Homo sapiens: one gene and its partners. The protein of the gene in region 3 interacts with the protein of the main gene of each other region in a biochemical or structural test. Each region holds a gene or a part of one and is shown on either strand. Other genes may lie near its edges.

The links.
Region 1: the proteins of ITGA2B (region 3) and COL2A1 form a complex in vitro, tested with the Homo sapiens proteins (one study listed by BioGRID).
Region 2: the proteins of ITGA2B (region 3) and F2 form a complex in vitro, tested with the Homo sapiens proteins (one study listed by BioGRID).
Region 4: the proteins of ITGA2B (region 3) and FN1 form a complex in vitro, tested with the Homo sapiens proteins (one study listed by BioGRID).
Region 5: of the proteins of ITGA2B (region 3) and PRKACA, one has a biochemical effect on the other in vitro, tested with the Homo sapiens proteins (one study listed by BioGRID).
Region 6: of the proteins of ITGA2B (region 3) and CAMK2A, one has a biochemical effect on the other in vitro, tested with the Homo sapiens proteins (one study listed by BioGRID).

What each region holds. Positions count from the first base shown.
Region 1 is NC_000012.12:47,987,477-47,991,075, forward strand, and holds part of COL2A1 (collagen alpha-1(II) chain isoform 1 precursor), read right to left. Parts: intron 2,330-3,599; coding exon 2,285-2,329; intron 1,806-2,284; coding exon 1,752-1,805; intron 234-1,751; coding exon 135-233; intron 1-134. UniProt on the Homo sapiens protein: Type II collagen is specific for cartilaginous tissues. It is essential for the normal embryonic development of the skeleton, for linear growth and for the ability of cartilage to resist compressive forces.
Region 2 is NC_000011.10:46,722,206-46,725,804, reverse strand, and holds part of F2 (prothrombin preproprotein), read right to left. Parts: intron 2,626-3,599; coding exon 2,520-2,625; intron 2,424-2,519; coding exon 2,287-2,423; intron 1-2,286. UniProt on the Homo sapiens protein: Thrombin, which cleaves bonds after Arg and Lys, converts fibrinogen to fibrin and activates factors V, VII, VIII, XIII, and, in complex with thrombomodulin, protein C. Functions in blood homeostasis, inflammation and wound healing.
Region 3 is NC_000017.11:44,376,150-44,379,649, forward strand, and holds part of ITGA2B (integrin alpha-IIb preproprotein), read right to left. Parts: intron 2,562-3,500; coding exon 2,494-2,561; intron 2,361-2,493; coding exon 2,213-2,360; intron 1,642-2,212; coding exon 1,549-1,641; intron 940-1,548; coding exon 860-939; intron 240-859; coding exon 159-239; intron 36-158; coding exon 1-35. UniProt on the Homo sapiens protein: Integrin alpha-IIb/beta-3 is a receptor for fibronectin, fibrinogen, plasminogen, prothrombin, thrombospondin and vitronectin. It recognizes the sequence R-G-D in a wide array of ligands.
Region 4 is NC_000002.12:215,404,993-215,408,591, forward strand, and holds part of FN1 (fibronectin isoform 1 precursor), read right to left. Parts: intron 3,435-3,599; coding exon 3,306-3,434; intron 3,206-3,305; coding exon 3,116-3,205; intron 2,330-3,115; coding exon 2,135-2,329; intron 1,519-2,134; coding exon 1,246-1,518; intron 1-1,245. UniProt on the Homo sapiens protein: Fibronectins bind cell surfaces and various compounds including collagen, fibrin, heparin, DNA, and actin. Fibronectins are involved in cell adhesion, cell motility, opsonization, wound healing, and maintenance of cell shape.
Region 5 is NC_000019.10:14,107,763-14,111,361, forward strand, and holds part of PRKACA (cAMP-dependent protein kinase catalytic subunit alpha), read right to left. Parts: intron 629-3,599; exon of another isoform or gene 223-628; coding exon of another isoform or gene 1-222.
Region 6 is NC_000005.10:150,248,218-150,251,816, reverse strand, and holds part of CAMK2A (calcium/calmodulin-dependent protein kinase type II subunit alpha), read left to right. Parts: coding exon 1-67; intron 68-1,006; coding exon 1,007-1,129; intron 1,130-1,507; coding exon 1,508-1,591; intron 1,592-3,599. UniProt on the Homo sapiens protein: Calcium/calmodulin-dependent protein kinase that functions autonomously after Ca(2+)/calmodulin-binding and autophosphorylation, and is involved in various processes, such as synaptic plasticity, neurotransmitter release and long-term potentiation.

The DNA of each region.
Region 1 (3,599 bases), on a different chromosome or scaffold from region 3:
AGGTGGGGACAGGCATTGGGCCAGAATGAAGGTTTGGTGGTTGGAGCCCACAACTGTCAGAGCAAAGTACAGAGTCAAGAGTTCCAAAGCCACAGACCCCAGACCCCCCCAGGCCAAAGAGAAGCTGCACTTACGGAGGCACCAGCAGGCCCAGGGGACCCAGGAGTACCAGGTTCACCGCGAGGACCTTGAGCACCTTCAGGACCACGGGCACCAGTGGGGCCGGCTTCACCCTGGGAAGAGACAGGGAGGATGAAATGAAGAAGAAGAGAGGGGACACAGACCTCTAGTGGGTGGGCAATAGCTCAGGGCCAGCTGCAAGCACAGCACTAAATTATGCACATGCACCCAACCCTGCACATGAACATGTGCGTTCACACACAGTTCACGCTGCCGTTTTTCTCCCTGCCTGACCGAGCTGATGACTTGATGACTTCCCACGCCTGCCTCCTCTACTGCTTACCTCATCTCTACACAGTGAGCCTCCACATGCCACGGCACAGCTACATACTACAGCAATGGGCAACCTGCTGTTCCATCGACACCATCAGAAAAGCGTGGGCTGGGGACCCTGCCATCCTGGCACCGTGGGATGATGGACGGACACCGCTCTCTCCCCCACCTCCTGTTTTTCTATTTTATTGAGGAGCTGAGGTCCCTTCTAAGTCTCTGAACATCCCAGCTCAGAGCACCACCTCACTCCCATCTGGCTGACGGGTGAACAGTGACACCCTGGCTCCGGCCCCAGTCTGTTCTCAGTAAGCCAGAAAGCCAAGGCAAAAGCACATGGGGACTCTGCCCCTCCCTGCTCTCAATACAGCCCAATTCCCCTTAGCGGGCGCCTCTGGCAAGCCCCCTCCCCACAAAATGGCTTGTGCTTTTACTTTCATTTTTTCCTGAAAATTACAACCCACTCTAGATGGCAGAGTCCCTGGGGAGGGCTGCTGACCTGGAGAGAGGGCAGAGCCTCCTCAGGTTTCTTCTCAGAACATTCCTGCTTCACTGTGGTAATTATTATTTTCAAAAGGTCAGCCCCCCTCACCTTCCGCTGTCCCTCTTCACAATGGGTCTCCTTCACCCGGCTCCGGGACCTCAGACACTGTCTGGTTGCCATGGAAACCCCCAGGAGGGGAAAAGCAACCTGATGCCAGTGACACATGGAGGCTCCTTATTCATTCCCAGGGACGTTCACACTGGAATCCTTCCTGGGCTGCGAGGCCTGTCCCTGAACTGGCTGGCCTCCCACTGGCCTCTAGTAATCCTCCAGAGAACTCCGTTAACATGGTTTGGAAGAGCCAGGCACCCCAAATAAAGCAGAAACCCAGAGGGGAGCAGGGGCTCCCTGCCTGTGCCCTTTTCCCTGCCCAGTTCCCTCCAGTGCCCGTCAGGGCCCCGAGCTTGCTCAGCTGTTGGGTCTCCCCTAGGTTTGCTTCCCTGTGCTGCCACTCCTGGCCTTCTGCCCCTGCCAGGCCTATGGTGTATCCCCGTCTTCTTCTCTGTCCACCTTTCCCCACTCCAAAGTTGTAACTGGATCTCCCACATTTTATCTTCTGTCTTACTTTCCCTCCAGGTGAGACTGCGAGTGTCTGGCTTTTTGCCCTGCCTGGATGGAGGGGCCAGTGGGTGGGGTGGTGGGGAGCTACTTCTCAGAAGGGAGCAGGTGGTTGTTGAGGGAGCAATGAGCAAGGGTTACGGGGAAAGGACAGCTTCTCGGCACCCAGAAGTTCCTGACTGGACAACAGGGCACGTACCTTGGCTCCAGGAGCACCAGGGAAGCCAGGACCACCAGCAGGACCGACAGGACCCTGGAGAGAGTAGGCGGATGAGAAGAGAGGTGAATGCCAGTTCTGGCCTCCAAAGCGAGCCACCCCGACACCTCACACTCCTTCCCTCCTCTGTACTGATTTCACTCCATATCCATTGTGGCTAAAAGGCCTTGGATGAAAATTGTCCCCATTGCCAGCGTCCCCAGGAAACTTTGCCTGGCTTCAGAAGGCAAAGCAAGTTTCTGACTACATCTGTGGTGAGAAGCAGAAACTCCTTTGACCTCCCTCCTCTAAAAAGACTGCTGAAAGGATGGCTGAGGAAAATGAGCCCATGCTTCAAAGCTTGTTATCGATATGCTCAATTGATATTTACAAACTTCTTCTCTTTCCTCCCCCTTTCCAGTAGACATCAGAGTGCTGCTGTGGTTGCACCCAATACACCCTGCAGACTGCCTTGGGCTGCTTAACGGGACTTAAAGCACAGCAACAATGACCTGCTGAGGATGAAATGAACTTACCGGAGGCCCTGCGGGGCCTGGCTGACCATCGTTGCCTCGGGCACCCTGTGAGCAAGAAGGAAGTGACCATGAGAGGTGCCCACAGGCCCTGTCCGTCCCTGCTCCCAGCCCACCCTTACAGAAAACGAAGGACACACTGTGCCTGGGGTGTCCCAGGGCAGAGCACGAGGATGGCGAGGTGTGGGCTGCAGTTTTGGTGTCTGTGCGAGTGGGTGGCCAGAAGGCAGTAATGGGCTTCTTCTAATCTTTTTTTGTTGTTGTTTTTGAGACGGAGTCTGGCTCTGTCGCCAGGCTGGAGTGCAGTGGTGCGGTCTTGGCTCACTACAACCTCCACCTCTCAAGTTCAAGCAATTCTGCCTCAGCCTCCTGAGTAACTGGGATTACAGGCATGTGTCACCACACCTGGCTATTTTTTTTATTGTTATTTTTAGTAGAGACTGGGTTTTGCTATGTTGGCCAGGCTGGTCTGGAACTCCTGACCTCAGGTGATCCACCCGCCTCAGGCTCCCAAGGTGCTGGGATTACAGGCGTGAGCCACCGCACCTGGCCCCTAATCTTAAACAAAGCTTAAATCATTTTCTCTTTTCTTCAACTTCAGTTCAGACCCCAAATATCCGTAACTTCAAGGCCAAGTGATCATTTAAAGACTGAGAGAATTGAGTGTAAGGAAATGAAACAGCGAGGCAACCATGTGGACTCAGTGCTTCCTGCCTGCTCAGGGGGAAGCGCTTTCAAGGCTTGGTTAACCTCTGTGGTTAAGGCTTGGTTAAGGCCTCCTCTTGGTTGACTCCAGGTTGCCTCTTCCTCTGGCCCATCCCCAGACAGCCTGCTCTTACGGAAAACAAAGATGCCCATAGGATGTCTACCATTGGCTCCCTGATGGGGCAGGGCACCAGCCACAGCTCAAACACTACATCTGAGCTCAAGCCCTAAGAGGCTTTTGCTTACAAAGCAAGGCAAGGTTGCCAGCTCCTTCTCTAGGACTGGACTTGGAGGGGGAGGGTTTTTTCTGCCAAGTTTGTGGTGGCACCCCTCAAATGCTCTCTCAAGGTTCCTTAAGGCCCAGGGAACTCTTTACCGAAACTCTGGGGGCCACAGGCTGGGTGGAGCTGGGCCTAGGGCCTGACTGAGCAGGTCAGGGGGGTACCTTTTCCTGCTGAGTCCTGCCTGTCAGTCTCTGCCTCTCCTTAGAAGCTAAAGAAGGATGCTTTAGGGGGAGCTCGTGTTTTAAATACAACTCAACTCTTCTTCCTGGCTGGGGTCCATTTCTCCTAACGGAGACTCTCCAGATTGGCATTTAAGAGGAAAGCAAGAG
Region 2 (3,599 bases), on a different chromosome or scaffold from region 3:
GAACAGACAGGGGTGTGAACCCCGGTCTTGCTGCTTTCTGCCTGTGTGACCTCAGGTTACTTAACCTCTCTGGGCTTCTGACCGTTTGCCTTTAAAGGGGTTACTAATGCCACTTTTGCAGGTTTGTTGAGAGGATTAAACAAAATATACAGCATAAGTGTCTGGCACATAATAAACCAGAGATAGTAACCAGGTTTGGCCTCCTAGGCCATCTGTAATTAACTGGTAGTGGCTGCCTGGAGCTGCTGGAGGAGTCATGTTTTTATAGCTGCACAGCAGGACGCTTGCTGGGATCACTAGGCTGTTCACCTGGATGGGTCAATTTCTGCAAGCCTGCAACTTATTTATCATCAATGTGTGTGCGTGTGTATGGGGGTTGGGGAGTAAATAGTAGCTGTTTTTGTTGGGATAAACTTGCTATAAGACCAATTCCAGGGGCCAGGCGCAGTGGCTTACACCTGTAATCCCAGAACTTTGGGAGGCCGAGCTGGGCAGATCACCGGAGGTCAGGAGTTCAAGATCAGCCAGGCCAACATGAAGAAACCCCGTCTCTACTAAAAATACAAAAATTAGCCAGGCGTGGTGGCGTGTGCCTGTAATCCCAGCTATATGAGAGGCTGAGGCAGAGAATCGCCTGAACCCAGGAGGTGGAGGTTGCAGTGAGCCAAGATTATGCCACTGCACTCCAGCCTGGGTGACAGAGTGAGACTCCATCTCAAAAAAAAAAAAAAAAAAGGCCGGGCGCAGTGCCTCACCCCTGTAATCTCAGCAGTTTGGGAGGCCGAGGCGGGAGGATCACAAGGTCAGGAGTTTGAGATCAGCCTGGCCAACATGGTGAAACCCCGTCTCTACTAACATAAAAAAAAATTAGCCAGGAGTGGTGGCACACGCCTGTAATCCTAGCTACTCAGGAGGCTGAAGCAGGGGAATCGCTTGAACCCAGGAGGCGGAGGTTGCAGTGAGCTGAGATAGGGCCACTGCACTCCAACAGCCTGGGCAAGGGAGTGAGACTCCATCTTAGAAAGAAAAAAAAAAAAGACCAACCCCAGGAATGAGCAATGGGCCCGACAGGGATGCCTAGAGAACAAACACTAACCCATGTTTGTGGACTGGTAATCGGCACAAATTCTTTACCCCTGCCTGCATCCACATCCCTTGCTCTGTGATTTTACAGGCTGAGGTGTAGTTTACCTCTTGACCCTGGCCTTGAACATATACTTGCTCTGGCCAATGGAACGTGGGCAGGGCTGACTGTGCCTGTTCTGAGCCAGGCCTTCAGGACAGAAGACGCTTTTCTGTTCATTGTTTTCTGTGTCTGTCATCAGCATAAGAAGAGTTTTCCCAGGTACCTTCTTTCAGCCTCAGCCCCAGCATGAACGCACGTGGAGCAGATCTAGGCCCAACCCTCAACGAGGAGCCAGACTCAGCTGGACCCATTATTTGAATCAGAGCCACCCAGCCAGGGCCAACCTCCGTCAGTTGACCCTACAGACGCATTAGCGAGTGCAGCCACACCTGCCAACCCTCATGGGAAAAAGAAATGCTTATTGTGGTCTGCCTCAGGGAAGGGGTGGCTATAGCTACTTAACACACCAAGGAAATAATAATGACAGAATCCCGCAGGGCCAAACTGCACAAGGCTTGCTCTGTGATACTCAGAACAGGGTGTGTGGACTGAAATGGCTAGGGAGGGCTTCCCGGAGGGAGGAGTGCCTTGATCAGAAAGGAGGCATGTTTGGAATGAGCCACAGCCTGGACCATAAGGAAGTCAAGAGTGGGGAGGGGGAGGAGGAGGCTGGCAGATCCCCCCACTCAGATCCCCTGATTCCCTGACTTTACTGAGCAATAGGCACAGATATGATCTGAATGACTGACGCCAGCTCTGAAGGTGGCCAGCATCTTTTTTTTTTCTTTGAGACAGAGTTTTGCTCTTGTCGCCCAGGCTGAAGTACAGTGGCAGGATCTCAGCTCACTGCAAACTCCGCCTCCCGGGTTCAAGCGATTCTCGTGCCTCAGCCTCCAGAGTAGTTGGGATTACAGGCGCCCACCACCACGCCTGGCAATTTTTGTATTTTTAGTAGAGACGGGGTTTTGCCATGTTGGCCCAGCTGGTCTCAAACCCCTGACCTCAGGTGATCTGCCTGCCTCAGCCTCCCAAAGTGCTGGGATTACGGGCATGAGCCACTGTGCCTGGGTAGCCAGTATTCTTGGTTCCCATCCCAGGCTGCCAGGCCCCATGAAGCCCCCGGGCCTTGGCCATGGGCCGCCCCACTGCCCCCAGCTTACCACAGACAGGGATGCTGCATTCCTGCCTCCTCACGGTGGGGTCTGTAGTGTAGCACCAGGGTCCCGTGGTGCTGCTGTCGGGGTTGCGGCAGAAATTCTCCTGTAGGTCGGCCCCAGGATGGGTAGTGGAGTTGATTCTGGAACAGGAAATTGCCCAACAGGAGGCTGTTGGGCTTGAGGTACGCTTGCTCCCTGTTCTCAGCCCATGGTGGGAAGGCCGGCCCCTCACTCACTCAGGCTTATGTGGGTAGCGACTCCTCCATAGCTGGCACTCAATGCCTGACCGGGTGATGTTCACATGCCCTCGGTAGTTCGTACCCAGACCCTCAGCACAGTTACCTGCGGAGACCCCACCCCGGTCAGCCTTGGAGCCTGGGGACTTATTTCCTCTCTCCCTGCAAAGTTGTCTATCCCCCACCTCCCAGCTCATGCAGGTCCACAATCCTGAACCTGCATTCACCCAGCCCCTCTTCCTCTGCAACCAGCAGTTCTCCCATTCACTCAACAGTGGCCTCCAAATATTCGCTAAGTGCCTACCATATGACAGGCACTGTCGGGTGCTCAGTACACATCAACCAATAGGACAGTCACAGCCCTGCCCTCATGGAGCTTCCATTCTGTGGCTTCTCTTGGCCAGCAGGATGAAAAAGTGATGAAGGTCCTTTTCAACTGGCCCTGGTCTACCTGTCCCTGCTAGCTCAGCTTCTCATGCCTCTGGGTCTTTCCACGGATTGTTTCTTCTGACTGGAATGCCCACTTGTTTGTTCATCCATGCATCCCACCAGGCCAGGCAGAACTCTGCCTCTCCTGGGAAGCCATCTCTCATTTTTCTGGCAAACCAGACACTCATTTTCCTGTGGTCTCTTGGTGCCTTGAACAGAACTTTTCTTGCAATCACTTTATTGAATTATTTATTTTTATTTATGTATTTTGAGATGAGTCTTGTTCTGTTGCCGAGACTGAAGTGCAGTGGCATGATCTCAGCTCACTGCAACCTCTGCCTCCCAGATTCAAGAAATTCTCCCCCATCAGCCTCCCTAGTAGCTAGGATTACAGGCGCGTGCCACCACACCCCAGCTAATTTTTGTATTTTTAGTAGAGGTTGGGGGTTTCACTATGTTGGCCAGGATGGTCTCAAACCCCTGGCCTGGGCGCCCACCTCAGCTCCCAAAGTGCTAGGATTACAGGCTTGAGCCACCACACCCGGCCGCAATCATTTTAATATTTTGTATTTTTGTTCTCTTTTGAGATTTTGAATTCCTTGAAGGCAGAGACTGTATTTGATTCTCTTAAAATCCCCAGCACCTGATATA
Region 3 (3,500 bases):
CTGCTGCCACCACCAGGGAGGCTGGAAAGGAGTTCCTGCAGGTGCCCAAGACCCCCAGAGAGAGTGTGATGCCCTGATTGGCCTGTGAGGTTTCCCCAGCGCCCCCTGGAGTTTAGAGCCCTGAATGCCATCTCCCTTCTCCACCCCTGGCCTCTCACCCTCGCAGCTCCACTTGGGCCTCTGCCCGGACCGGCACGTCCAGCAGCACAATCTTGCTGTTTGGATTCTGGCTGTTCTTGCTAGAGGGGAGGGGATGAGGAGAAACAGGGCCAGGGACACCAGCCCAGTGACTTTCTGGGGGTGAGGCCAGAATTTTAGAGAGTTCAGAGAGAGCTAATTATACAAAGAGCATGCCACACTGAAGTTAGACCTGGGAAAGAACTTCCTCTAGGGCTCCAAGACTCAGACATAAATCTCTGAGGAAGAAAGGGAACCAGGCTTCTTCAAAGACCTTTTTTTTTTTCTTTTGAGATAGAATCTCGCACTGTCGCCCAGGCTGGAAGGCTGGAGTGCAGTGGCCCAATCTCAGCTCACTGCAACCTCCACCTCCCAGGTTCGGTTCAAGCTATTCTCCTGCCTCAGCCTCCCGAGTAGCTGGGATTGTAGGTGCGCACCACCATGCCCAGCTAATTTTTATATTTTTAGTAGAGATGGGGTTTCACCATGTTGGCCAGGCTGGTCTCCAACTCCTGACCTCCAGTGATCCTTCTGCCTTGGCCTCGCAACGTGCTGGGATTACAGGTGTGAGCCACTGCGCCTGGCCTCGAAAGACCCTTCTGTATGGAAGGGACCTGAGGGGCTCTGCACGGGGGTCAGACGGGGGAAGGGTGGTGGGTAGGCACGCTCGCCAGGTCAGTACCTCCGTATCTGCAGCTGGAAGGACACAGACTCCCCAGCCTCTTCCAGATTCCCCACGCTCACCAACATCGCGATTCCTATCTGGGAGATGAGGAGGGCCAAGGTCACTGCCCAAGTGCCCCACTTAGGACAGCCCTGCCCTGAATGTGGCCTCCAGTCTTCACCCTCCAAGATCACCACTATTCTTTTTCTTTTTTTTTTTTTCCGAGACGGAGTCTCACTCTGTCACCCAGGCTGGAGTGCAGTGGCATGATCTCGGCTCACTGCAACCTCCACCTCCCAGGTTCAAGTGATTTTTCTGCCTCAACCTCCCGAGTAGCTCTGACTATAGGCGTGCGCCACCATGCCCGGGTAATTTTTGTATTTTTAGTAGAGACGGGGTTTTGCTATGTTGGCCAGGCTGGTCTTGAACTCCTGACCTCGTGATCCACCCGTCTCGGCCTCCCAGAGTGCTGGGATTACAGGCGTGAGCCACCGCACCAGGCCACCATTATTATTTCTATTTTACCTGGAAGCCCACTGGGTAAAGGGGCTCAGAGAGGGAAAGTCACTCACCCAAGGACATGTGGCAAGGGAGTGTGAGGACCAAGATTCTGGCCCAGAACTATGTGGCTCTAAAACCTCACCCCTAAAATCTGGTTATTCATGAGCCCCTGGTGGAGACCCGGTACCACGACCCAGCAGCCTCACCTGGGCGTTCTTCTTCATGGGGTTGCCCAGCTCACACAGCACCACCCTGGTCTCATTCTCCTTCTTCTGATTACAGATGAGTCTCTCAAAGCCCTTCAGGAAGGCAGTTCCAAGAAAGAAATTACAGAGCATCATATATATATATTTAAGCTCCCTTGGAAGGTCTGGAAAGATTTGTGTGCCAAGGTAGGGAGGGGGGGGTTTCTTGGGGTGGGGTCTCAAGGGACTGTCACATGCTAGTGTGTGTATTGCTGTAGCACTACTACTTTTTAGGCATTTTCATTTTGGAAATAAAAAACACAAAACATTAGAGTATGACCCCCATTATTATAAACTATATTAACAACATAAAAAATAAATATATACTTATGTGAGTGTGAGTCAATATTGAAAAAAAGACTGGAAGGAAATCCACCAAATGTTAACAGAGGTTCCTGTTAACATTTGGTTCCTAAACCTTTTTTGTTTTTCTGGTTTTTGTAATAGAGTTTTGGAATTCTGTGCCATTAGCAAGTATTCCTCCTCCAAATTAAAAAAAAAATAAAAAATTACATCTTTGACAGCAAAGCAGAAGAGAAGAGGGACTCTCAGGGAGGGAGATGAGAGAGCCAAGGCTCCAGTGCCTCCCAGGTCCCGGGTACTGTTCCCAGGGTGGGGGCCATACCTCGACATTGCTTAGGGCCCGCATGTAGTGGGCGCCCTGGGGCAGGTGCACGGCCAGCTCTGCTTCATAGGCCCCCTCGCCCTCGTTGGCTGCGTCCATCTGCAGCTCCAGGACATTATCTGCCCCAACTAGGAGCGGGGAGCCCGTCCTGTGGGGAAAGAGGAGTGAAGCCAGGGAGCCTGGGTCTGGGCCCAGGATGTGGGAAAAGAGGGGACTAAGGTGTGGAGCAGGTATGATAGGCAGAAAGGGCCAGGGTCGGGCAGAATGGGAGGCCTCCTCACACGCTGGCAGTGAGCTGAAGCTGGGGCACACATACGTCATCTTCCCCACAGTCCAGGACGATTCGTGTCTAGAGGGGCACATTGGGGTGTGCGGGTAAGTTGGGGATGTGTGAGGTTTAGGGATTACATCAGGGTTAGGAAAACAGTGGGCTTGGGGTTCACATAGGGGCTTAGGGAGTAAGAAGATCTGAGGACGAAAAGGAGTTTGTAGATGGTATCGGGGCTCGGGTTTATTTGGAGGTTTGGGACAATGTCAGGGTTTGTCAATTTACATCAGAGCTTAGGGGATACTGGGATTTTCAGGTGTTTATTTTATTTTTGGAGACGGAGTCTCGCTCTGTCGTCCAGGCTGGAGTGCAGTGGCACTATCTCGGCTCACTGCAAGCTCCGCCCCCCGGGGTTCACGCCATTCTCCTGCCTCAGCCTCCCAAGTAGCTGGGACTACAGGTACCCGCCACCACGCCCAGCTAATTTTTTTTTTTTTTTTGTATTTTTAGTAGACGGGGTTTCACTGTGTTAGCCAGGATGGTCTTGATCTCCTGACCTCGTGATCCACCCGCCTTGGCCTCCCAAAGTGCTGGGATTACAGGCGTGAGCCACTGCGCCTGGCTTTTTTTTTTTTTTTTGAGACAGAGTCTTGCTCTGTCACCCAGGCTGGAGTGCTGTGGCACACTCTTGGCTCACTGCAACCTCTGCCTCCTGGGTTCAAGTGATTCTCCTGCTTCAGCCTCCCGAGTAGCTGGAATTACAGGCATGCGTCACCACACCCGGCTAATTTTTTTTGTATTTTTAGTAGAGATGGGTTTTCACCATGTTGGCCAGGTTGGTCTCTAACTCCTGACCTCAGGCAATCTGCCTGCCTCGGTCTCCCAAAGTGCTGGGATTACAGGTGTGAGCCACCATGACTGGCTGGATTTTGAGGTTTTCATTAGGGTTTGGAATGACATCAAGGTTTTGGGGTTCACATTGTGACTTGGCACTAACCCTAATCCTGATTTGCTATCAGG
Region 4 (3,599 bases), on a different chromosome or scaffold from region 3:
ACAGTTAGCTCTGAGCCAAACAGATTAAGGAAAAAGGGATATGCCTCCTAAAATGACAGCAAGAAGAAGCTCTCTATGGGTCAAAAGCAATATTCTGTGAATAGCCCTTTGCTAGAGAAATAAAAGTTATTTTCACATGGTTCAGATTAGACAGTAATTACAGTAATGATAACGTATCCTCAGATTCATGGTAGGATACTGGTGAGTTTGCACTATCAGAATCACATAAGTTGTGGAGTTTATTCTTGAGAATAATAACCAGCAGTTTTCCCACCGAAATTTAAATTACCTTTCAAATAGAGGAAATCTTTAAGAGGCAGTCGAGTATAATAATTGAGAGCATGGGCTTCGGACATAGGTTATAGAGCCAGCTCTATCCCTTCCTATCTCTGTGACCCTACAAGTTGCAGAACTTTTTTAAAGCCTCAGTTTCTTTAAGTATTCAATACGGATACTAGTAAGACCTTCCGGCTGGGCACGATGGCTCACGCCTGTAATCCCAGCACTTTGGGAGGCCAAAGTGGGTGGATCACTTGAGGTCAGGAGTTTCAGACCAGCTTGGCCAACACAGCGAAACCCATTTCTACTAAAAACACAAAAATTAGCAGGGCATGGTGGCACACGCCTGTAGTCCCAGCTACTCGGGAGGCTGAGGCAGGAGAATTGCTTGAACCCAGGTGGTAGAGGTTCCAGTGAGCTGAGATGGTGCCACTGTACTCCAGCCCTGGCGACAGAGCGAGACTCCATCTCAAAAAAATAAATAAATAAAATAATAATAATAAGACCTTCCTTCCTAAGGTCAAAACAAAGAGTAAATATGAGAATAATGCTTGTAAAAACTGAGCAGATAAGCTGGTGGCTAGTAATACTAGACACTTGACAATTGCTATTGTTAAATGAATTCTACTCTAAGTGTTATGATCCTGCATTTTAACTTTGATCTAGATATATTTAGTTACACGAAAAATGCACTCAAATTAGATTCTCTTCAGTTCTCCCCTCTTAGTACCCTTCAGCTGGTACATGTATTTTAGAAATGGGTTACCACTTAGCATCCATGGAGCTTGTCTGAGTTTTGTTTTCAAGTTTAATGTGCTTTGTGTTCACTATGCATTCCCTTGCCGGCTGGGTATTTCCCTCTCTCTAAGCCATACACCTCTGAGTGAATGGTTTACTGCACTTTCTCACAGGCTGCAAGTGAGGGTGGAGAATTTGGAGGGGAGATAGAGATAGGAGAAGACATACTGGTTGTCTGTTGAGCAGTCAGAGGCTTGCTCTCCCTCCCATGGCTCACTGCAAAGACTTTGAAGTAATAGGTGACCCCAGGGGACAGCCCGGTGACTTCTGCAAAGGTGTTCCTGCTGATGGGCAGCCTCTGCCCGTGCTCGCCAGGCAGGTTGACGGGGATCACATCCACACGGTAGCCGGTCACTGCACTCTCAGGCGGTGTCCACATGATGGTGACCTTCACGTCTGTCACTTCCACAAACTGCAGGTCCCTGGGAGAGGGCACTGTATCTGACAGACAAGAGTCAACTGGTCATTCACATTCTCTGCTGAAGATTACTTTTAAGAAGCCAGTTTCTTGGATATGTTAGGCAGTTCATTGAGCCTCTCATTCGAGAGTTTTGCTAAGTTTTGTCTCTTAATCAGATCACATTTTCATGGTCCAGTCATAGTGCTTAAATTATGACATTTGAACCTTTTATCTAAAATAGGTAATAAGTGAGTTACCAGCATATGAAGTGTCATATGGTGGTGGGGGGAGAGGGTTATAAGAAAAGATACTAAAAAATTTTTTAGAAAAAGCCTTTGAAATAACTGCAGAAAATAATGTAACAGTTTTTGTTTTACTGAATCATTTTATAATACTTAAGAATCAAAAATGAAATGACCCTTAAGCTTCTAGGGGAAAATTTGTAGATGGACGTTATGGTGTCAGTTTTTAATCAGAAAGGCCAGTAGCCAGCTTTGATAAGTTACTTATGACATTTCAGCTAAATATCAGAAGTTTAGGGAAAAACTAATATATAAGATTTCTTGAATGAGAGGACTGTTGACAGAGACAAAACAACCCTCCTTCAGGAACAATCCTGATAAGATAACATAGGAAGTGTCTTCTTAAAAAAGTTACCTGAGCGTGGGGTGCCAGTGGTTTCTTGTTGAATGACAACAGGTGTACTTTCTTGATTTTCTTCCACAGCATAGATAGTGATGTTATACTGAACACCAGGTTGCAAGTCACTGAGGGTGACGGAGTTTGCAGTTTCAGGAAGGTTGAGTTCTGTGCTGCTACCTTCTACTGATGGCGAATAGACTATTCTGTACCCTGCAGATTCATGAGCAAAAGTAAGATGCACTGTTTTCTTTGAGACAGAGGCTTAGAAACACCATAAATCCTCCCTTTTCTAATATCCCTTAGCATCTTGCTTGATTAGTGAAGAGCCAGTGATACTTTTTGACTCTTTGAATATTGCCACTTCTTCTAATAATGACTATTCAGCACGAAGATAAAATAAGAACAGTCATGCGAACCTTTTTAATAATAAATGTCATCCTTGAAGACCTGACATCCTTAATAAATGTCAATTAGAGATGCCATTAGGTGAAAATATTCATGTTAAGCTGATTTTTCCTCTTTGAGCTCCAGACGAGGGAAGCAATTAATGAACCAGCCTAAGCAGAGTTGTCTAGCACTGTGTGTGTCTTTTTGGAACTTCAGTGATGAGGCAGTTGAATCACCTAATGAGCTAAGACGACAGCTCAGCTTTCTCCTTAAGGATAAATCTTAGAGCAACGTTTTCAGGAAATTACACCTCTTCAACCCTGGGAACACTTGCTTTAATAAGCCAATGAGCTGGCTTTACAGGTTGTGTGTATGTTGTGGTGTGTGTGTATAAGGGAGTTGGTGAAATGGTTTCAAGGGGAAATGTGCCATAGAAAATAACTCCCCCACCCCCGCCACACACACACACACACACACACACAAACCCCTCTCCCATAAATTATATTGGAGATTTAAAGTGATATGCAGGTCCGCAGTCAGAATCTGCGCCCTCCCTGCTGATGTCATTAAGATTAACATAGCAGCCAAAGAGGGGGACGCTTAGCTGACCTGTGATGGGAGCCTGGGGTCTGCTCCAGCGAACAACAATTGAGGTGTCATCAACTTGGTCCACAGTCGTGTCAGGAGGGGCATCAGGCGCTAAGAAAGAAAGAAAGTGGGGCAAACAGTCAGGAAGTGCTACTACAGGCCTGTGTTTTACAGAAAAAGATTCTTTTAACACTATGTAGCACACATGTACCTGTTGTTTGTGAAGTAGACAGGATCAAACTCTGCTCCCCATCCTCAGATATCTGATAGACATTTACAATGTATTTTCGGCCAGGAAGCAGGTCAGGGATGTTCACAGAAGTGGCTGTGCTTGGAAGATCTTTGAAATGAAAAGAAAAGGTAACTAATCAGAGCAAACTAGTCCCTCAAATGACTCTACAGCTTATAAGAAGGATATTTTAAGAATTATATATTCATAGGGAAAAGCGACTAGAAGGTAATGTGCTAATAGCTAATCAGTGATTATTATTATTATTTTTACACA
Region 5 (3,599 bases), on a different chromosome or scaffold from region 3:
TTTGGCTGTTCCTCTGGCCCCTTCTCTGGGGAGGCCGGGCCTGGGATGGAGGCCTCGGGGGCTCGGGTAGCAGGTGCCCTTGGGGGGCTCAGCTGTCACCTTGGCCCCCAGCTGGCCCTGTTCCTCTCCGTGGCAATCGCAAGGGCATTGCTCCAGAGCTGGTTCAAGGGAAGTCTCGCCCGATGCCCACTCCTCGGCCCCATGGTATCCCAAGGTGAACATCACCGCCTGGCTAATGTTGAAACTTCCCCGGCAGACCCTGTGCCGGCTGCTGTCTACACTGTCTCATCTGACTCACTCGGCAACCTGCCTTGTATCCATTGTCTCCACTTAACAACCCAGGAAACAGGCTTGAAAACAGTCATTCTCGTCTCTGCTGAGACACAGCCCAGCAAAGTGGCTAAGGGCCAGGACTTGGGGTCAAGATCCAGTTCAGAGCCCAGCCTGGTCTCTGATGAACTCTGTGACTTTGGGTAACTGATCTCACCTCTCTAGGCCTCAGTTTTCCTCATCTGTAAAGTGGGGTGGTTTTGAGGAATGAATGAGTTCATCTTGACAAAGGGAGTTGAACAGTGGCCCCGTGTGATGATAGTGCCAGATAAATGTCAGCTATTATTATTTTTTATTTATCTATCTATTGACTGATTGATTGATTGATTGATTGAGACGGAGTCTCCCTCTGTCGCCCAGGCTGGAATGCAGTGGCGCAATCTCCGCTCACTGCAAGCTCCGCCTCCCGTGCTCACGCCATTCTCCTGCCTCAGCCTCCTGAGTAGCTGGGACTACAGACGCCTGCCACCACGCCCAGAGAATTTTTTGTATTTTTTTTAGTGGAGACGGGGTTTCACCGTGTTAGCCAGGATGGTCTCGATCTCCTGACCTCGTGATCCACCCGCCTCGGCCTCCCAAAGTGCTGGGATTACAGGCGTGAGCCACCATGCCCGGCCAATTTATTTTTTTTAATTATTATTATTTTTTTTTTTGAGATGGAGTCCCACTTTGTTGCCCAGGCTGGAGTGCAGTGGCACAATCTCAGCTCACTGCAACCTCCGCCTCCCAGGTTCAGATGATTCTCCTGCCTCAGCCTCCTGAGTAGCTGGGATTACAGACACCTGCCACCACGCCCAGCTAATTTTGGTATGTTTAGTAGAGACAGGGTTTTGCCATGTTGGCTAGGCTGGTCTCGAACTCCTGACCTCAGGTGATCTGCCCACCTTGGCCTCCCAAAGTGCTGGGATTACAGGCATGAGCCACCGTGCCCAGCCTATTATTTTCTAAATTGAGGTATAAAATATGGGGAGAGAGGCTGGGTGAGGTGGCTGACGTCTGTAATCCCAGCACTCTGGGAGGCCAAGGTGGGTGGATCACAAGGTCAGGAGTTCGAGACCAGCCTGGCCAACATGGCGAAACCCCATCTCTACTAAAAATAAAAAAATGAGGCCAGGCACGGTGGGTCACACCTATAATCCCAGCACTTTGGGAGGCCAAGGCGGGTAGATCACTTGAGGTCAGGAGTTCAAGACCAGCGTGGTCAACATGGTAAAACCCCGTTTCTACTAAAAGTACAAAAAAATCAGCCGGGCATGGTGGCAGGAGAATCGCTTCGACCCGGGAGGCAGAAGTTGCAGTGAGCTGAGATCATGCCATTGCACTCCAGCCTAGGCGACGGGGCGAGACTCTGTCTCCAAAACAAAACAAAAAAATTAGCCAGGCGTGGTGGTGATGTGTGCCTGTAATCCTAGCTACCTGGGAGGCTGAGGCAGGAGAATTGCTTGAATCCGGGAGACTGAGGTTGCAGTGAGCCGAGATTGCACCACTGCACTCCAGCCTGGGTGACAGAGCAAGACTCGTCTAAGAAAAAAAAAAGAAAAAAGAAAAGAAAATATGGGGAGCGATCGGGCATGGTGGCTCACGTCTATAATCCCAGCACTTTGGGAGGCCGAGGCAGGCAGATCACTTGAGGTCAGGAGTTTGAAACCAGCCTGGCCAACATGGTGAAACCCCGTCTCTACTAAAAATACAAAAATTAGCTGGGCACGGTGGCGCATGCCTGTAATCCCAGCTATTTGGGAGGCTGGGGCAGGAAAATCTCTTGAACTTGGGAGGCAGAGGTTACAGTGAGCTGAGATCATGCCACTGCACTCCAGCCTAGGCGACAGAGTGAGACTCTGTCTCAAAAAAAAAAAAAAAAAAAAAAAAAAAAATATATATATATATATATATATATATATATATATACACACACACACACACACACATAGGGAGAGCCGGGAACGGTGGCTCATGCCTGTAATCCCAGTGCTTTAGAAGGCCGAGGTTGGAGGATCGCTTGAGGCCTGGAATTAGAGACCAGCCTTGGCAACATAGCAAGACCCAATCTCTACAAAAAATAAAACAATTAAAAAATTAGCTGAGCATAGTGGCCCATGCCCGCAGTTTCAGCTAAGCAGGAGGCTGAGGCAGGAAGATTGCTTAAAGCCCAGGAGATTGAGGTTGCAGTGAGCTATGATCACACCACTACACTCCAGCCTGAGCAAGAGTGAGACTCTTTCTCAAAAAAATAATAATACTCTGGGAGGCCGAGTTGGGGGGATTGCTTGAATACAGGAATTCGAGACCAGCCTGGACAACATCAAAACCCTCTACAAAAAATAAAAACATTAGCCAGGTGTGGTGGTATGCACCTGTAGTCCCAGCTACTCAGGAGGCAGAGGTGGGAGGATTGTTCAAGCCCGGGACATAGAGCCTGCAGTGAGCCGTGACTGAGCCATTACACTGCAGGCTGGGTGACAGAGTGAGGCCCTGTCTCAAAAAAAAAAGTAATAATAAAAAAACCCCAAAAACAAATATAGGAGATACACTGAGTGCTCAAATCTTAAATGCGCAGCCTGACAGATTCTTGCATTATGGACTTGTCCTTTTAACCACCACCTAGGGCTACAAGGGACCAGCCCCTTGCTGAGTATTTTCTATGCTTCGTTCTCACCCTGTGGGGTGGGAGCTGCTGTTATTCCCACTGTACAGAGGAGAAGACTGATCAGGTCTGAGGTCACTTGCCTGCCCCCACATCCCATGAGATTAACTACTTCACTGCCAACTCAGCCATTGGTTTCAGTGCTGAGTCCAGTGCACCAGGGTGGCCAATGTGGACAGAGCTGCCTTCAACCCCCTGATGTTCCTGGGTTTGCTGCCACCGAGGGGCCCTGTACACTTGCCCTTTGGCATTGCTGGTTATCTGCCTGCCAGTAATCCCACATGGCCTTGTGGGGAGCCACCCCCACTACCTGTCTCCAGAGCTTTCCCTCAGCATTCAGAGAGAAGAGCCCTCATGGAGCTAGAAAGTGGTAGATGGTGGCTGGGTGCAGTGGCTCACGCCTGTAATCCCAGCACTTTGGGAGGCTGAGACAGGCAGATCACCTGAGGTTGGGAGTTTGAGACCAGCCTGACCAACATGGAGAAACCCTGTCTCTACTAAAAATACAAAATTAGCTGGGCGTGGTGGCACATGCCTGTAATCCCAGCTACTCAGGAGGCTGAGGCAGGAGAATTGCTTGAACCCGGGAGGCAGAGGTTGCAGTGGGCTCAGATCGCGCCATTGC
Region 6 (3,599 bases), on a different chromosome or scaffold from region 3:
GTACCCCCCGTTCTGGGATGAGGACCAGCACCGCCTGTACCAGCAGATCAAAGCCGGCGCCTATGATGTGAGTGTCGCTCCTCTCTTCAGCTCCCATCATCCTCTGGTGCCCTTCCAGTGAAAGCCAGCGCCAAGCCACTCTCTAGTTCTGGCACAGGGGTGAACCCCAGGGGAGCATGAAGACTGACCAGGGCCAGGTGGTTACCATGCTGTGCCTAATGATTGGAGATTTATCTTGCCCCAGAAGGCAAGAAGCAGCACCAAAATGGAGTGAGGAGTAGGGGAGAGGCGCCTCCCAAGCCAGGGTTTCTCTGTTTCTCTCTCATATATACAAATAATAATAGCTAACAATTCTATAGCACTCTCTGAATGTTTTACACATATTATTACATTTAATCCTCACACCAATCTATGATATAGGTGCTGTTATTATTCCCATTTTACATATAGAGAAGCTGACATACAGAGAGGTCAAGTAACTGCCTAGATCACACAGCTAAGAAATGGTAGAGGTGGGATTTGAACCAGGCAGTCTGGCTCTACCATCCATGCTTCTAACTACCAAGCTATATTGCTTTTATGCAGATAGCTATTAAGCTCTGTGCCGTATGTTTTATATTGTATTTAATTCTCACAACATCTCTAGAGATAGCTCAAGAGGTCATGTGACTTACCCAGGTTACACAGCCCAGGAGGCAGAGCCAGGACTTGAATCCAGGCCTTTTGATTCTGAAGTCTGGGCTAAAGCCACTGACCGGCTGCTCTGCAAATAAGGCACAGTCTCAGAAAGATGGTTGGAGGGAGGCCTCCTTTCCCTCTGCCGTGTTCTGATTTGTATGGGGCTAGGGCCCTCCCCTGCAGTGAGGAGCCCCAACTCCTCCTGGTGTGGATGTCCGAGTGGATGGGCAGTAGGACCCCTGCCTGCTCCCCTGCCAGTCAGGGGCTGGGGGATCGCAGGGGTGGCCTGGGGCAGGCTGGGCAAACCTGGCCTCTCTGCCCCTTCCAGTTCCCATCGCCGGAATGGGACACTGTCACCCCGGAAGCCAAGGATCTGATCAATAAGATGCTGACCATTAACCCATCCAAACGCATCACAGCTGCCGAAGCCCTTAAGCACCCCTGGATCTCGGTGAGCCTTCCTCAGCAGGACTTCTCCCAGGAGCCCCTCCAGACCTCATGATCCAGGCCCCCACAGAGTTCTGGCCCTTCCCCTGGCCCATGGGGCCAAGAGGGCTTAATCCAAGAGACTGCCCCTGCTGTGGTTCTCAGGGGTAATGTGGAAACGAGGAGTGAGTGTTCTGGGTTGGCATACAACTGATGGTGCTACTGGCATTGAATGTCTGGTGCCAGGATGCTAAACACCCTGAAGCATCTCCTAGAGCAATGAATCGTTCTTCCCAAGATGTCAACCACACCTCCATTAAGATGCCCTGCTGAAGGGTACCCTTGGGTGGGCCTGTCTTCCAGCCTGCCTTCCACTCACAGCCCTCTCCCCTACTTCCTCCAGCACCGCTCCACCGTGGCATCCTGCATGCACAGACAGGAGACCGTGGACTGCCTGAAGAAGTTCAATGCCAGGAGGAAACTGAAGGTAACAGGTCCTCACCCTCCACAGTCCTGGCCATGGGACTAGCTCTGCCTGGGTCTCCACAGAGGCCAGGAGACTCGCTCACTAATTCTTTCCTTCATTGATTCAATAAGCATTTATTGAACACCTACTGCATACTGGACAGCAGGTTGGGCTTGGGGAGTGAGCGGTGAATGACTGAGCCCTTGCTCTAGTGGAGAGGACAGACAAGTTCCTGGGGCGTTATGGGGCAGTGGTGAGTGCCATGCCTGGGAAAGCCTCAAGATGGTGGCAGAATGCAGCAGGACAATGGTATTCTGGGTCTGGAGCCAGGGGCGTTTAAGCTGAGACCTTGGAGGATAAGCAGGTATTAGCCAAGTTAGAGTCAGAATGGGAAAGTGTGGCCGGGCGCAGTGACTCATGCCTGTAATCCCAACACTTTGGGAGGCTGAGGTGGGCAGATCACCTGAGGTCAGAAGTTCAAGACCAGCCTGGCCAATGAGGTGAAACCCTGTCTCTACCAAAAATACAAAAATTAGCCAGGCATGGTGGCACATACCTGTAATCCCAGCTACTCAGGAGGCTGAGGCAGGAAAATTGCTTGAACCTGGGAGGCGGAGGTTGCAGTGAGTGAGATCGTGCCATTGCACTCCAGCCTGAGTAACAGAGAGAGACTCTGTCTCAAAAAAAAAAAAACAAAAAAAAGAATGGGAACGTGTTCCAGACAGAGGAAGCAGCCTGTGCAGAAGTTTGGAAGTGCGCCTGACCCCTTAGGGGCACCACAAGTGGTTCAGAGTGGCTGGGGAGAGCTTTTGGGGGTGAGACATGACTGAACGTGAGACCCTGGTCAGGGAGGCGCCCCAGCTGCCCAGTACTGTGGAGGAATGGCTGAGGCACTCAGACAGTGATTGTGGCCCTGAGGAAGCTCAGTGGCACCCAGGTGGTCCCAGAGCTTCACACTCTTGCAGGTTCTGTGTGCTCTCAGGGTGGTGACAGCTCCTGGCCTGGCCTTTGCCAGGCACTGAGGGGCCCCTGGCCAGTGGAACAGAGGAGCCGTCAGCACGCTGGGGATGATGAGGGAAGAGGCGGAGGCCCCAGCTCTTGTGGAACCTCCTTATCTGCTGCTCCCAGGCCTGGAGTGGAGGCTTAGGATGGGGACACAGACCAAGGGGTGGTGGCCAGCATGATGCCAGGAGAACTGAGTCCCATCCCCATCCTGCAGTGGAAGCTGTGTCACAGAGGAAGTCTCAAAATATCAGAATCAGGGATTCTTAACATCATAAGCAGTGGGATTCAGACAGTGTCAAGTCAGGTCTGAATCAGATGGCTCTGGAACAAAAGGGGCCATTAGCCCCCAGCCTGCTTGTTGATGGAGGAGGCTTTCTCTACATTGAGAATCCTCCTGGGATTCAAAAGATTATAAATCATGGTGCTATAAAGACACATGCACACATATATTTATTGCGGCACTACTCACAATAGCAAAGACTTGGAACCAACCCAAATGTCCAACAATGATCGACTGGATTAAGAAAATGTGGCACATATACACCGTGGAATACTATGCAGCCATAAAAAATGATGAGTTCCTGTCCTTTGTAGGGACATGGATGAAGCTGGAAACCATCATTCTCAGCAAACTATCGCAAGGACAAAAAAACAAACAGCGCATGTTCTCACTCATGGATGGGAATTGAACAATGAGAACACTTGGACACAGGAAGGGGAACATCACACACCGGGGCCTGTTGTGGGGTGGGGGGAGGGGGGAGGGATAGCATTAGGAGATATACCTAATGTAAATGACGAGTTAATGGGTGCAGCACACCAACGTGGCACATGTATACATATGTAACAAACCTGCACGTTGTGCACATGTACCCTAGAACTTAAAGTATTATATAATATATATATATATATAAAATAAAAAACTTGGAAATAAAAAAAAAAAAGAGAAAATCCTCCTGGGATTCTCTGAGCCCAGGGGCCATGGAGGGATGAGCTAGTCCTGGAGCAAGATGCTCTCAGCACG